Regions from separate parts of the Homo sapiens genome. Here region 2 is linked to region 1. The links come from fine-mapping of genetic effects on gene expression. Tissue or cell type: sun-exposed skin. Region 1 holds a variant in brackets; the other region holds the start of a gene. All regions are shown on one strand. Distances are between the middles of the regions.

Region 1 (8,180 bases):
CAGACCCACTTCTTCCAGCTGCTTCAGTGTAGGGAAGTAGTTGGCAGGCTTACTGTGAAGCTCCTCCCAGACTTTAGCCAACTTCAATCTCAAGCCACAGGCAGAGAGTCTTCTTGGTGTAGTTATAGTCCTTTCCTGCCCTGTTTTATGTTGGTTAGCTCCAGCTTGAGTTCCTCTCTTGGAGCCTTTACTAAAAGTAGCAAGAAGCAAGCATCTTATACCAGACACTTGAAATGTTTTCCTCCATGTTCTTTGGAGTTAGAGGTTCAGATGCCATGTGCTCTACCTTCCATGACATCATAGATGGTGGTTTTAACAAACATTTGTCCATGGCCTAGCAAAACTCACCAGCTTTATCACTGTCACATGCTGCGGAATTCTGAGTAAATGCCATGTATTTCAGATTATCTTCTGTTCAGCTCCTCTTCCAGGTACAAAGTTTTGTGTTAGTTAAGATGCAGGTTTGGTGGCTGTGATAGAAGTTCAAAATAAGAGTGGCTTAGACAAGAAAAGAGACTATTTCCCAGTCACATAATAGAACAAGTTGTTAAGGTGGCATAGCTTTACAGGGAGGTCAGTGCTTGGGTATCTTCTATTTTTCTTTTATCCAGTCACTATGGCATGGCCTTTGTGGCCCAAAAGAGCTCATCACCACATCTGCATGTTAGCTAGGGAAAAGGGGAAAATACTCCCTTCACTGACACACAGCAGTCACCAAAGCTGGTCACGTGGCTATTGAGAAGGTGCAAGGGCAGCTGGGAAAACTGCAGTGCATTCTGGGTATTGGTGAGAAGGCAGCCACTCTCATCTACTCTGATATTGAGAATTACATGTGATTGCTTTTAATTTTCATGTTAAACTTATTATGTGAGTTGGAACATTAAAGAAAAAATACACAAACAAATAAACTAGAGAATATTTTCCACTCCATTCATGTGACCGCCAGTCTTTGATGGAGTTGGAGCCTGACAGAGATGAGAGGCAGAGCTCACAGGATAGAAAGATTTGAATTTGACTTTACTTTTAAATGCTTTCTTAATAACTGAGTCCAAAAGTTAAGTTAAAAAAAAAAACTTGTTTAATTCTTCCCTCTGTCTCTAGGTAGCCCTGCATTGACATTATCATGAATACATTCCATTTAAAAACCTCCTTGAAAAGACAGTTCACTAATTGCCTCTATTAATGTTTCTCAGTTTTCTAGCCAAAACAAATATCTCAAGTTGTGCATTTCCTTTACGTAACAGTGTGCAGTTGTGATAAACAAATTATACATGGAACTGACATGATCCTACAACATAAACTCTTTGAGAACTGAGGCTGTGCATTTTTTAGATTAGTAGATACTTTGCAATTTTTTTAATGGAGTCTCACTCTTCTGCCCAGGCTGGAGTGCAGTGGCATCATCTCAGCTCACTGCAACCTCTGCCTCCTGGGTTCAAGTGATTCTCCTGCCTCAGTCTCTCGAGTACCTGGGATTACAGGCATGCGCTACCACGCCCGAATACTTTTTGTATTTTTAGTAGAGACGGGGTTTCACCATGTTGGTGAGGCTGGTCTCGAAATCCTGACCTCAAGTGATCTGCCTGCCTCAGTCTCCCTAAGTGGTGGGATTACAGGCATGAACCACCTCGCCTGGCAATCTTCTTTCAACTTAATCAGCCCTTATACACTCAAAGAGTTACTTGGATGCATGCTTTCTCATTATCTATTTTTGTCATTGCATATATCTGAGGAAGGATAATGAGACTCTACCATCAGTAGAAGGATGGTTGGATTATCAAGTGCAACACCTTATAGCCTATCTTGACTTTTCTCCCAAACTTCCTGGAAGAAAAGATGGGATTTTCTGACTCTTTTTAACTTCCTAGGACTAGAGAGCCAGGAAGACAGAAAAAAGGGGCAAAAGGGGCCTTACTTTTAACTTGGTACAAAGTTTATAATGGGAACATAATAGTTCCAGAAAGCAGAATAGAAGAATCTTATTAAAGAAACCAAGACAGGGAGCTTCATTAACATTCTGCTCTTGAACTCATGCTTTTATTATATACTTATGTGTAGGGCTATTCTGAGGACCTACTATTCATTTTTTCAAATAATTCATATTTTAATGTATTTACGTAGGTAATTTACATGACATTATTTTTAGAAATCATGACCTATTTCAACCTGTCATTGTTATCTATGGCTTAATTTCTGTGAAAAGCAATGAAGTCTGTCTGCAATATAGCTATGATGATCTCTAATTTTGTAGTTCTCTAATTTGTTCACACATTTAGAATGACCTTTTATGCCTTTCCAACTATGGCATCTTCTATTATTATATGATTTGGGTTGAAATGTTCACCAATACATAGTGCTTGAAATGCATATTAAAAAAGTATGAACAAGGGAGAATAGAAGTTGATACAGAAGCAGTAATACACAGTGTTCTCAAACAATCCACCTAAGTTGCCATTTCTAGTTTCATGTCTCATAATCCAAAATCCTGGGGAGCTGCCACTGAATCATTTCTTCTCCTAATCATAAATACCTAGACCCAATACACCAGGGAATACCAGGATCTTGAAAAAAATGAAAGAATGGAATAAAAAATCAGCCTCAGGAAAGCAGCCTAAATATATTTGAAGATGACAGATTGGTAGGTAGGTAGGTAGGTAGATAGGTAGATAGATACCTAGATAGATAGATAGATAGATAGATAGATAGATAGATAGATAGATAGATAGATGATAGATATTCCAAGACTATAAAACTATGAACCAATTTTTAAAATCATATAATCTTCTAGTATTATGCTGAGCTGAGATCACCTGCTTATACAAAATTCAAGACACATTCAAAGAGATCTTTCAGTGATAATTTTTTAATCAGAAGGAAAAAGTTTTAGATGCTACTTGAGAAAAGGACAAAGTATAGGTGGAGTTTCTCTTTTTTGCCAGTTGTTATTACTTAATTACACTATCTTTCTGGCCATAAAATGAACAAAAGGATTCATTCACTTGTCTCGTTAGGTATTAAGCATCAGTTGTCGATTCATTCATTTCACACATTTCACTAGTGACACTGAATACTGCAGAGCCTAAGATGAAAGGGGAAGCAATTCACAGGCCGATGAGAAGATGCACGATTGCCATTCAGGTACTGAGGGCTGCAACAGAGGAAGGGTGGTGAGAGCACTAATGAATTCTTGCTATTTTCTGATCATTGTCTCATCCTAATAACAGCTCCCTGGAAAAGGTACTATTAATCCCTAAAGAAACTAAAATTCAGAAAGATTAAATGACTTTCCCAAAATCACAAAACCAATATGCAATAGAGCCATAAATCCAATTCAGGCCTGTCTCATATCACAATTATTTTCTATCTGCTACACCAAGTGGCATCCTTGAGTTTTG[C/A]AAGATGCCCTCAGTGCCAAGGCATGAGTCCTTACCAGGGAAACTTTCTTTCTTTCTTTCTTTTTTTTTTTTTTGATGGAGTCTCACTCTATAGCCCAAGGTGGAGTGCTGTGGTGCAATCTTGGCTCACTGCAACCTCTGCCTACCAGGCTCAAGTAATTCTCCTGCCTCAGCCTCTGGAGCAGCTGGAATTACAGGCATGTGCCACCATACCTGGTGAGTTTTTTGTATTTTAGTAAAGACGGGGTTTCACCATGGTGCCCAGGGCAGTCTTGAACTCCTGAGCTCAGGCAATCCACCCGCCTCAGTCTCCCAAAGTGCTGAGATTCAGAGAAATTTTCATGGAGAGGGGACAGATGGAGTCATTTCTTGTGGGGTGAACATGAGTACCATGGGTAGACTGAGGTTGGGAAAGATTTTCCAGACAATTGGAAGAGCATGTGAAAGACACAGATTTTGAGAAATGTCAAGTCTAGGGAACTGCAAGCCTTTTGGCACAAGAAAGCCACTGTGGACTGTAGAGGCAGGATGCCTAGACTCAAATCCCAATGGCTACACTTCTAAGCTTTGCAATTTTGGCAAGTTTTTACCCTCTTTTTTTATCTATAAAATATAGATTTTATATATATAGATATAGATATATAGATAGATAATAATAGTACCTGCCTAATAAAGTTGTCAAAGATTAAATGTTATATGTGAAGTATTTTGTACAGTGATAGGAACCCAGGAAGGGCTCTATGAATATTATATATTATTATTATTCTAAAGTAGCCAGAATACAATTGTCAAAGGAGATAGTGGCCGGAGATAAGTTTGAATTGAAAGACTGAGGCCAGAACATAAAGTGCCTCCTATATTATATTTTATATAATTGGAACATCATTGAAAGATTTAAGTATTATTTATGTGTGTATGTGTGTTTTATATAATTAATTCTAGTTCATCATTTTAAAATATCTTTCTGGTGTCACTGTGAACAACAGATGAGAAGAAGTGAATCCTGAGTTAAGGAGACCAGCTCTCTGATTACTGCAATAATCCAGGGAGGGTACCATAAGGATTTCAACTGGAAATGAGTCCATCATGATGGAGAGGAAGGACAGGGCTGAAAAATACTTAGGAAGTAGTATCAGTAGGACTTGGTTAAGAGAGAGCAGAGGCAGGCTACAGGGGTTGGAGGTGTCAATCACAGAGATAGGGAAAATGGGAGGAGAAGCAGGCTTTGAAAAAGTGGCTTGTCTTGTAAAATTATGTCCTATTAAAACAGTAAAAGAAATTAATATATTCAATCCCAAAATACAGGTACAATTCTTTTTGAAAGAGTTACCCAGATAATCTTGCTTGAAGTTTTCAGTTAAAGAAATTTCTTGTTAACAAGTAATGTAGTCATAGAAGAAAACACTTAAAACTTTATTGAATAAAGCTAATAAATCATTTAATATAATTTATAGGAAACTGTTACATAACACACACATTCAATACTTTTTGCTAAAGTATAAATTAATGGAAGGAGAGCACACACACGGAGGTTGAATTATGTTTATGACTTTATTAGTCAAGAATACAAAATTGAGTAGCTACATCAAGCAGAAGCACACAAAGCAGAAGCTTTACAATCCAGCACAGAATCCCTTGACTTCCAAATTCCCGAAACAGACATATAAATACAGATGACATTGTCAGAACAAAATAGGGTCTCACCAGACCTATAATGTTCTTTTCTTGATATGCACATGAATTGCATACGGTCATATGGTGCCAATTACCATTATTTCCTCTGGGCTTAGCTATCCATTTAAGGAGAATTTACACCAACACTGTACCTCTACTTGCAAGAATATATGAAAGCATAGTTAACTTCTGGCTTAGGACCCCAACTCAGGATCAACAAAGCAGTCCTCTTGGGGGAAGCCCATTTCGCTACAATTTAAAGTCATTATAAGCATTAAATAAAAGCTAAGTACTTGTAATCAAGTGTGTTATAATGCAGTTAGGGAATTGGATTTCAGGTGTTTATTTTTAACAGAAATCCATTAATTCTGACACCTAAGGCAAATGCTAGTCAACATGAATGGAGAAACTTTTGATTAGTGGTATATGTTTTCAGATTTCTGGAACATTCATAGACGCTTCAATGTCTTATGTACTGAAATTTTTTAAACCATTGTTTTCTCTAGAAACTAATGAAACTCATCATAAACTCATTTTTCAATATTAAAACATAGTCATAAGTAGAATATTAATCTTATATTAATTAAGATGTTAACATATGTGAAATTTAATACTTCCTGAAAGGAAATGTCTAAAAGAAACTGTTTTAATTCTTCAACCACAAGGACTACACGGGGCAGTTTCAGCACCAGGGATAGTTTTCTTCCTGGATAACAGCGAATGCTCTAATACTGATGAGTAAATCCTGTGTGTCTAACTTCAAATTAATTGTTAGGTTTATATGAATGAGTATAACATGATAGTTAGGAGCATAGGCACAAAGGAAACATTCAGATTTGGTGTTGTTGTCCTTGCTATTATTCTTGTTGTATGTGAGGCTGTTATGATAAAAGATACTGATTTAGGTCAAATACACATATTACTTGTGGAAAATTAATAACTCTAATTAAATATTTCTTGTTTCATACACATTAATTTTAAATACAGCCCAACAATGGACCACTATTTCTCAATACAAGAAAGTAATACATAAAAATCATGAAGTTCTTCAATCAAACTTAAATAATGCTTATTGCAAACATAAAACATAAAAAACAACACATTTTTAAAGAAATATTATCTTTCCAAACATAGCCATATAATTCCTCTGTATTAGAATTTTTCACAGGAATTCTAACTAGTATATTTTTGTACATGCTTTAAAGAATAAAAAAATTTGAACTGTTGACCAAATGTGATATATTATATACTATTGTGTGTATTTTAAAGTGAGGGTAAAAAAAGACACCAAAGCCTCTGGGAAGTTAAACTATAAATTAACTTACAGAATTAATTAATTAGGAAGTTAAACTATAATTAACTTACAGAAGTTACCAAGAGGTGTTAATGCCTACCCTAGGAATGACTATAAATCTATTAGTTAGAATTTTCATATATCTCAATTTTTAATATGTAATTGTTTTGAAAAATTTGGCCAATTTGAAAAAACCATTAATATGTAAATAAATATATCTATATTAATACATATTCTTTATTAATTCTTTATTAGATACTAATCTGGGTTCTGCACAATTTTGTATCTGGGCATTTATTTGTTTTATATGCCAGTAACAAATATAAAACTTTTTGAAGCCACCAATATATTTTTAATGGATGGAGCCATCTCTATGCTGATATATCACAGTTACTACACCAATTTATAGTTAAGAGATATCTGAATGTGATGTTGGACCTAGGAAACTAGTACTTGTAAACCCAATCACCAGGAATGCATGGTTGAATGGCCAAAATTCAGGAAACGTACAGGTGGATAAACCAATGATCCATTAACCTAACAGTATAATGGTTCCCAGGAACCAAGGGGAACAAAATTGGTTGGAGAAGAAATATACGATACTTGCAGAAAAAAAAAAAAACAACTTGCTGCTAAGGCCAGGTTCCTTACTGGCATGCCAACCCTCCATCCTGGGGGTAGCCAGTCCTGAGTGAGCCTGGCCTGAGGTTCGCTGGTAATCACTACACATGTCTAGCTAGTGGCATTCCTTGGTCAGATTTGAATGTAGAGATAGAAAGCAAACAAACAGTTACCTAAAGACAGTAATTCTCTGCCATCCACAGGAGGGTTTTGCCTAGCATTCACATGCATGTTGCTACAGTACAATTGATTCATTAATTAACTTTAGCCAGTTACTTAGTAAACTCAGGTCAACAAGAGAGGAGGCAATGCTTTCTTTCCTAGCTGAAACCATACATACTGAGGATCTAATAATGAGTGCATACATCAACGACTGAGTTTTTTTACTTTCAAAATATTTTGTGGTATCATGAAAACATGGTGTAAATCCCAAGGGAAATTTGTCTAGAGATTTGACAAAGCTTTATCTTGCTGTCCAATTAGAAAATGGATGACTGGAAAGGTTCTTCTAAAAACTGTCTAAGATATTTATTGCCAGAATTTTCTTGAGGAGAAACTGTTGGTCCAGTTCCACCTACATTCCCTTACCTCGATCATGTAATCCTGAGCACCTGCTCCTCAAGAGTCAATGCTTTCCTTCAAAGGATCCTTATACATACACTGGAGCTGACACACAAAAGTGCCTTGCTGCATTTTTGAAGATCTCAAATTTGGCCTCTCGTTTACATTATCCTTCATTTTGTTCATCACATTTCCAGTTTCCTGACTGTTTACCAAACTTTATATTGCCTTCCTATTCCATTCTTGAGGATCCATGGTCACTGCAACTGTCTTTTCAGGTTTGCCCCAACTGTGGCTTGTGTGACCAGTTTTGATTCCTTGCCATTTGATTCCTGACCACTAGCTCTGGGCATGGAACCTGCCTAGCTCCAATTTTTTTTTTTTTTTTTGAGAGGGAGTCTTGCTCTGTTGTCCAGGCTGGAGTGCAGTGGCCACTGCAACCTCTGCCTCCCAGGTTTAAGCGATTCGCCTGCCTCAGCCTCCCGAGTAGCTGGGATTGCAGGCATGCGCCACCACACCTGGCTTATTTTTGTATTTTTAGTAGAGACGGGATTTCCCCATGTTGGCCAGGCTGGTCTCAAACTTCCTACCTCAGGTGATCCGCCCGCCTCGGCCTCCCAAAGTGCTGGGATTAC
Region 2 (8,186 bases), 28 kb before region 1:
CATAGATTTTTCTTCTGCACATGTTGTAATTCCTGGAGGATGTCATTAAAATAGCAATTTCCCCTCCACATGTTTACTATTTTTGGCACACTTTCATCTTTTCTGAGAACTAGAATTTCCAATTGTTATCATTTTTCTTCAACCTGAGCAGCTTTCTTTTGCATTTATTGTGGTTTGGGTGTGATGGCAACACATTCTCTCAGACTTTCTTTAATTGAAAATGTACTTTTCTCAACTTCAGTTCTGAGGGCGGCTTCAGCAAGTTCAGAATTCTAGGGACACCTTTGACTTTGAACAGCATGAAGTCTCTGCTCAGCAGTGCTGTAGGCACCATCTAACATATTGTTATATCTAGTTGTGTCAAATCTGTCATCGGCCATAGAACGCTTTGACAGGTGCTTCTTGTTGCTTCAGTTCTAAGTATTTCATAGTTTTCAGAGATATGGAGAAGCAGCAGTGCTAGTAACAGTACCAGTAAAACCAGGATAAGCCCTAAAATAATTAAGAAGCCATCGCATGCACACACGTGAACGTTTGACTTCAGCTAAAATGCTTTCAAGTGTACTATTTTATCTTTACACAAGGTTATAATACAAATTAAAGATTTAAAAATATTTTCACTTTATATATGTGAAAACTGCAGCTCAAAGAATTTAAAAGACATGATTGAAATCCCATAACTAGGTAAACATGGTCAAATCTGGAGCCCTCATGTCTCGGTCCCCCCACGCCCTGTTACAGAGAGTGCGAGGCTTCACCAGGAAGCTCTTTCGGCTCAAGGATTAGCTCTGGGGAAGTGCTGCAGGCAGGCCTGCTTTGCATCCTTTTTCCAGCAGAAATCCTATGTTTGTTTCAAGCTTCTAGTTCTTTTTGTTTTGTTTTGTTTCTTACCAGCACGGCTCTGGGAGTTATTTACACAACTTAATTTTAAGAGAGACAGTCCCCATCACTAAGGTTCCTTGGAAACTTATCATGCAAAAAAATAAAAATAATAAATGCTGGTAGATAAGCATACAAACCACTCAGGAGAAAGACAGTGGCCACTCAGGTCATCAGGTGAACTTGTGACGGGGCCATCAAGAGGCTGCACGTGAGCTCCAGAAAATGAAATTCCCACTATCAACCTATTTTCCATTTCCACCCAATGCCCCGCCCCTGCTCCAAATCAAGGTTTCCGCCTCTTAGAAATGCTTGATTTTCAGTATTGCTAAACAGGGGTCAAAGAAAACAAGCTGAACAAAGAAACAAATAAAGCCTTTAACACAGTGAGCAAAGACACAGCACCCACCCCTTCCCTGGGCCCCGCAACAGCTCCAGAGCTGCGCAGCTGCTCCCAGAGCCTGAGCATGGACCTGAGCTCTGGCCCATGGAGCTCACCAATGCATTTCTTCCCTCTGTGTCAAAAAAGCATCAAGAAATTGGATTCATTTACCTGGGACATAAAATAAGGTATACCTATAGTTTTGTCCCAGAACTGTGTAAACCGGCATGCTGCCTGCCACAGTACAGTCCTCCCCCTGCATCAGGAGCTCAGATGGGGGAAGCCAGCAGGGCTGGAGGCCTGGGAGTCACAGATGCTTGGAGGGGAGAGAAAAGCACCACAGAGAGCCAGGCAGGACCTGCCTACAAGTCACATTTTTAGGGGTCTAGTGGTCTGGGCAGGCTGGGAGATGCTCTCTAAAGGGAAGGCAAGAAATATTGCCCCACATCTCCCACCACCAAACAGAAAGTGCAGGTGGTCAGCCCCAGGGCTCACCTGCCCTTTGCCAGGGTCATGAGCTAGGCCCAGCCTGCACCCTCCACACAACCATCAAGGGGACTTCCTGTCAGGCTGGGACAACTGCACCGGGCCCTGATGCCCTGGGAAGAACAGGGTTGCATTTAACAGAAACAGCTAAACCTGAAGGGATGAGCTTGCCTTTCCCCAGGGCCATGGGATGGTTTATAGAAAGTTCTACCCATCAGGACGAGACCTCACATGACACCATCAGAGGAATTGATACCATGCCATAGAGGGAGGAAGAGGGCGCATGCCATAGGTCCACTGGTCACAGCACACACATGCTCCTGGGAGCTTCAGACCCAGCAGTTTGGCTCAGGTGCCAGGTCAGGATGTGGGAGGACACAGTGTCTGGGTGAATCTGTCACCCTTGCTAGCTGCCTTGTCCCACCAGGTAGAAGATGCGGCAATGGGAGCACAGCAGTAGGAAGCCCAGTGTCCCCCAACCTTCCACCTCACACCCAGGACCTCTGAGGTGCATCTATATCCTGCACATCTAGGCTCTGAAAAGCAGGAGGTCCTGGTTTCCACAGCTGTGGGGCTTCTAGACAGGACAAGGCCAAATTCTCTGAAAAAACAAGCTCTGGGTGCTGCTTTGTCCTCAGGCTGCTCCTCCATGGGACCTGCGGGCAGAAAAATGTGTACCACCTGGACCGTGGTTTCAGCAGAAGCAGGGTTATGCTGCCTGGGGCAGGAGGGGCTCTACACAAGCGCCTCTCAATACACAGCATTTGATGGTACGTGGACAAGTGTGGGAGCCCTAGACCAAGGACTCCGTGGTGAGCAAGACTCAGGACCCCTTAGGGGTGAGGGCCTGGGTTACACCACCAGGGGGTCACCCGGACCCTCAGCAGAAGGTGGAGGGGGTGGTGATCATTACCTTTGTGACCCTGCAATGGGTGGCAGCCACAGGACATAGGGTTCATTGAACGCACCTTGTGTAACTATTGCCCAGGAAAAGGCCCAGAATTTAATAAAGATGAGGCCCCTGGCAGTGAAGTGCTGGATGAGGCGCACCCCCTGGGGCATACCTGAACCTCCCCCAGGGCCTCGGCTGTGAGCTTTGATTATAGACACACCTGTGCCACAGCCCCTTCAGACTGCTCCCTTCACCTCTGAAAAACCAGACAGGATGCTTCTGTTCCTGGAAATGTGAATGCCCTTCGTGTGTTTTTTACTTTGACTATAAACTCATCTGCAACCAAAATATAGACTCCCACACAATAATAACGGGAGACTTTAACACCCTAATGTCAACATTAGACAGATCAACGAGACAGAAAGTTAACAAGGATATCCAGGAATTGAACTCAGCTCTGCACCAAGCAGACCTAATAGACATCTACAGAACTCTCCACCCCAAATCAACAGAATCTACATTCTTCTTAGCACCGCACAGCACTTATTCCAAAATTGACCACACAGTTGGAAGTAAAGCACTCCTCAGCAAATGTAAAAGAACAGAAATTATAACAAACTGTCTCTCAGACCACAGTGCAATCAAACTAGAACTCAGGATTAAGAAACTCACTCAAAACCACTCAACTACATGGAAACTGAACAACCTGCTCCTGAATGACTACTGGGTATATAACAAAATGAAGGCAGAAATAAAGATGTTCTTAGAAACCAATGAGAACAAAGACACAACATACCAGAATCTCTGAGACACATTTAAAGCAGTGTGTAGAGGGAAATTTATAGCACTAAATGCCCACAAGAGAAAGCAGGAAAGATCTAAAATTGACACCCTAACATCATAATGAAAAGAACTAGAGAAGCAACAGCAAACACATTCAAAAGCTAGCAGAAGGCAAGAAATAAGTAAGATCAGAGCAGAACTGAAGGAAATAGAGACACAAAAAACCCTTCAAAAAAATCAATGAATCCAGGAGCTGGTTTTTTGAAAAGATCAACAAAATTGATAGACCGCTAGCAAGACTCATAAAGAAGAAAAGAGAGAAGAATCAAATAGACGCAATAAAAAATGATAAAGGGGATATCACCACTGATCCCACAGAAATACAAGCTACCATCAGAGAATACTACAAACACCTCTACACAAGTACACTAGAAAATCTAGAAGGAAATGGATAAATTCCTGGACACATACACCCTCCCAAGACTAAACCAGGAAGAAGCTGAATCTCTGAATAGACCAATAACAGGCTCTGAAATTGAGGAAATAATTAATAGCCTCTCCCTGGGAATGGGCGGGCCTGGGTCCAGTCCACAGGGCCCCTCGTGGGCCCTGATGAAGGAAAGAGTTGAGATGGGGGCAGCGCTGGACCCCAGGGCCCCTGCCTGCCTCCTGGAGAGCCCGGTGACCCAGGCAGCCCTGGTGAGGCTGTGGGTGCCTGGGCCATAGCGAGGCCCGCGAGCTCCCACAGGACAGATGCGGACAGTGAGGCCGGGGAGGCCCTGCTGCCCTCCGAACTGTCCCTCCAGCCCCCAGCTTTCTGTGGTTCTCTGGGCCCCCTCTGCAGAGGGGCAGGGGAGCCCACCCTGGATCCTGAGACGCCAAGCTTGAGGGACCCCCAGAGCTCTAGCGAGGCTGCTTCCTTTGCGGATGGTGAAGCTGAGGTCCAGAGGAGGGCAGGGGCAGGTCCTGGGCGCTCCCTAGGCAAAGGGAGCCGATCTCCGGGAGGCGGTCACAGGGAGCGCTCCTGCGACTTCTAGGGCCCGAAAGCTGGGGAGGATGAGAGACCAGGGGCCTTTCGTCGTCCCCTGGGCTGGGCAGAGGCTCAGCCTGTGCCGCAACCCTAAGCGGCTTCTGGCAAGTCCGAGCCGCGGTCCCTTTAAGAGGGGGTGGAGCTTCAACCTGGCACTAGGGATGCTGCTAGCGTGCGTGTCCCTACGGAGCTGAGACTGCAGTTCCTGCGACGCCCCTGCAGCAGCAGCAGCGTGGTCAGAGCGAGCTTCTGAGCGGTGGTGGGTTCCATGTGATGGTGGAGTAGGAGACAGGTCTCCGCGGTCAGTGGCGGGGGCGTGGACCCCACCGGGAACCCTCCCTGCTCCTTCCCTGCCTCTCCCTGTTTTCGTGCCCGCACTTCTTCGTGGGCATCTGGGCCCGAGTCCTCCGCTTGGGGGCGGTTGTGCGGTCCTGGCTACTGCAGCGTCCGCACCCCGGCCGGGAAGGCTATGCCAATGTCCGACCCGCGTCCAGCGTATAGGAGCGCCCTGGCCCACAGCTGGCGGTAAAACGCGGGACCTGGGTCCCTCGGAGCCCCAGGGGCCTCTGAGCTGGAGTCTAGGATTATTTTTGATGCCTCAGCACCTTTAAAAAGAGACCTCGCTAGAGCAGGGGGCATCTGTATTTTCAGTTCTTTGAGGAGTCTCCAGCTATTTAGCTGTTTTCCATGGTGTGTATCCTAATTTTCATTTCCACCTACAGTGTATGAGTTTCCCTTTCTCCAAAACCACACCCGCATTCCTACTATTTTTGGTTTGGGGTTTGTTTTGTTTTTGTTTTTGTTTTGAGACGGAGTCTTGCTCTGTCTTACAGGCTGGAGTGCAGTGGCGCCATCTCGGCCGACTGCAACCGCTGCCTGGTTTTAAGCAAGTCTCCTGTCTCAGCCTCCAGAGTAGCTGGGACTACAGGCGCCGCCACCATGCCCAGCTCATTTTTGTATTTTTAGTAGAGATGGGGTTTCACGATATTGGTCAGGCTGGTCTCAAACTCCTGACCTCAGGTGACCCACCTGCCTCAGCCTCGCAAAGTGCAGAGATTACAGGCATGAGACACCGTTCCCAGCCCCTCCTATTTTTTTAAAAAAATCAAGGAATATTCGATAAGTGTGAGATTATCTGTGTGTGGTTTTGAATTACAGTTTTCTAATGAATAGTTGATTTTGAGGACCTTATCTCTTATTTGTTGTTCGATTTTATGGCTGTGCAGAATTGTCTGTTCAGGTTCTTTGCAAAATATTAGATTGGATGCTTTTGCTACTTTGTAGTGTTTTTTGTGTACATATTAGATGACAACTCCTCGTGAATTACAAGATTGCCTGAAATTTTTGCCTAATCTATAGGATGCTTTTTTAATTGGAAAGTAGTTTTCTTTGATGTGCAGAAACTTTTCATGTTGATGTAGTCAACATGATATTTATTTTTGCGTTTCATGCATGTAATTTTCGTCACCCATATAAGAAAATAATATGTCAGTGACAAAGCATTTAATTGTCAATGAGGTTTTTCTTCCAGGGTGTTTATTTTCCTCTTTGCAAAGGTGAGCAGAGATTCAAGTGACCCAAAATATATGCTCATCCTGTGTTTTAGTTAAAAACATTTTGTAGTTTATGGTCTTTTGTTTTGCCTTCAATTTGGGGGAGTGGGTGTTCATTTTCATACATCGTGTAAAATAAGGTCCTATTTCTCGCTTCTGCATCTGGATATCATTTTTGTCAAAGGTATTCATTCTCTGCCTTCCACATTGCAGTGTTCTTTATCAAAGTCAGTTGATTGTGTCCATATTTGTGTTGATCATGTTTTTGTCCTCCCTGTTTTTGTCCATAGTTTATGCAAGTATCATATATCAGCTGTATAACTACAACTTGGCAGTGTAATTTGATATTAAGGATTGTGGGTCTTCACTTTGTATTTCTCAGGATTCCTTTAGATATTCATTGCTTTTGTGGTTCCCTGTGATTTTTAGCAATACGTATTTATTTCTGTTAACTTTTTTTCACAACATAAAGGTCCATAATTAGGGGTACATTTTCATACATACAGATTGGGTAATGATCAAATCAGGGTACTTAGGATCTCTATTTGCTCATCCAGGTTTTTTTTTTTTTTGTGGGGAGAACATTCAAAATTCTCCCTTCTTACTCTAGAAAAATATGATATTGTTAACTCCAGTCACCAGGCTGAGGAGGAGAACCTCAGATTTGTTCCTTTAATGTTAAGATAACTTTGTTTCCATAATCAATCCTTCCCCATTCCCCCTCTATCTCCCAAACTCTGGTAACCAATATTGTGCTTTTTACTTCATTAAGATAAACATCTTAAGATTTCACATGAGTGGTATCATGCAGTGTTTTTCTAGGCCTAGCTCCTTACATTTAACATAATGTTTTCCAGGTTCATCTGCGTTGCTCTAAATGGGACTGTTTCATTATTTTGATGGCTGAAGAATATTTCCTAGTGTATGTATATGAGAGTTTCTTGATCTCTTTATCTGTGGATGAACAGGTAGGTTGAATTTACACCCAGTAATGGGACTGCTAGATGGAATGGTATTTCTTTTTTTCCTATTCTTTGCAAGACCTCTAACTGTTTTTTATAGTGTTAATACTAATTTATGTTTGCACAAACAGTTCCCCTTTCTGGCAATTCATACCAGGAATTGTCTTTTTAAATATTTTGATCTTTTTGTAATGTTCATTCTATTGGAGTGAGATAAGATCTGAGTGTGGTTTTGATCTGCATTTTTCTCATGAGTAGTAATGTTAACCACGTTTTTGTAGACATTCGGTCAGTTTCCTGTCTTCTTTGGAAAAATATCTAATCCGGTTATTTGCCCAGTTTTTGTCTGGCAATTGTTCTGTTGTTTTGTTATTTTTTTGCCAGCTGGTAGTATGACTGGCTTGTACCTTTTCAAAAATAATCCCTTATCCCAAACTTGTAATTTTTAGTGTGCCTTTTTATTTTGTTTATTGTTTCCTTTGTTGGTCACAAATGCTTCAGCTTGACGTGGTCCCACATGTGCATAATTTCTTGGTGGCTGTGCTGTTGGTTACTAATCAAGAAAAAACAAAATCACTACCAAAGCAGTCCCTTGTCAATAATTTTTTTCCCTTGTATTTTTGTTTACTTTTTGTGAACCCTGAGCATACATCCAAGTTGCTCTAAATATACGCACACCCGAGGTTGTCTTTATAGGAGCTTTATGGTTGCAAGTTTTGTGTATAATCTTTAATCATTTTGAGTTGATTATTGTGTATCTAGTACCATAAGGGTCCTGTATTACCCTTTTGCATATGGATATCTAGTTTCGGAAGTCTTCCCTGTTGTGTCATTTTGGTGGTGTTTTGAAAAATGTGTTCATTCCATATAAATTTTTGTTTATTATTGAGCACATTCATTTTGCTCACTGGTCTGTGTTTCTCTGTCTATGCCAGTAACATATGGGTTTGTTAACTACGGATTTTCATTTAATTAGAACTCAGGGAATGTGATGCATCCCGTATGGTTTGTATTTCTCAGAATAGCTTTGGAAATTCAGGGTGTTTCACATTTCCACATAAATTTTGGCATTGTTTCTTTATACTTCCTAAAACACTATTTGTCATATACTAAATGTATACAATTAGAAGGTACAAGGAAGGTTTTCATACATGTATATGTTGAATAATGATAAAATCAGGTTATTTAGCATCTCTTCATCTCATATAGTTATTATTTT

Evidence for each region. PIP is the estimated chance that this variant, and not a neighbour inherited with it, causes the effect.
Region 2: LINC03124 starts here. The variant in region 1 is fine-mapped to the expression of LINC03124 in sun-exposed skin (GTEx, PIP above 0.99). The same link has a PIP of 0.9 or more in esophagus muscle, thyroid, tibial nerve and whole blood.

The regions. Positions count from the first base shown.
Region 1 is chr2:131,705,716-131,713,895 of GRCh38, forward strand. All of the region lies in intron 5 of LINC03124 (long intergenic non-protein coding RNA 3124), which reads left to right. Among named protein-coding and RNA genes, the nearest start is that of LINC03124, 27 kb to the left of the region's middle. The variant C/A (reference allele first, on the strand shown) is at 3,396.
Region 2 is chr2:131,677,847-131,686,032 of GRCh38, forward strand. LINC03124 (long intergenic non-protein coding RNA 3124) reads left to right here and starts at 4,653. Exons shown (of 10, transcript NR_167889.1): 1 at 4,653-5,142; 2 at 6,863-6,973. RefSeq lists an enhancer at 4,086-4,205 and a silencer at 4,576-4,625.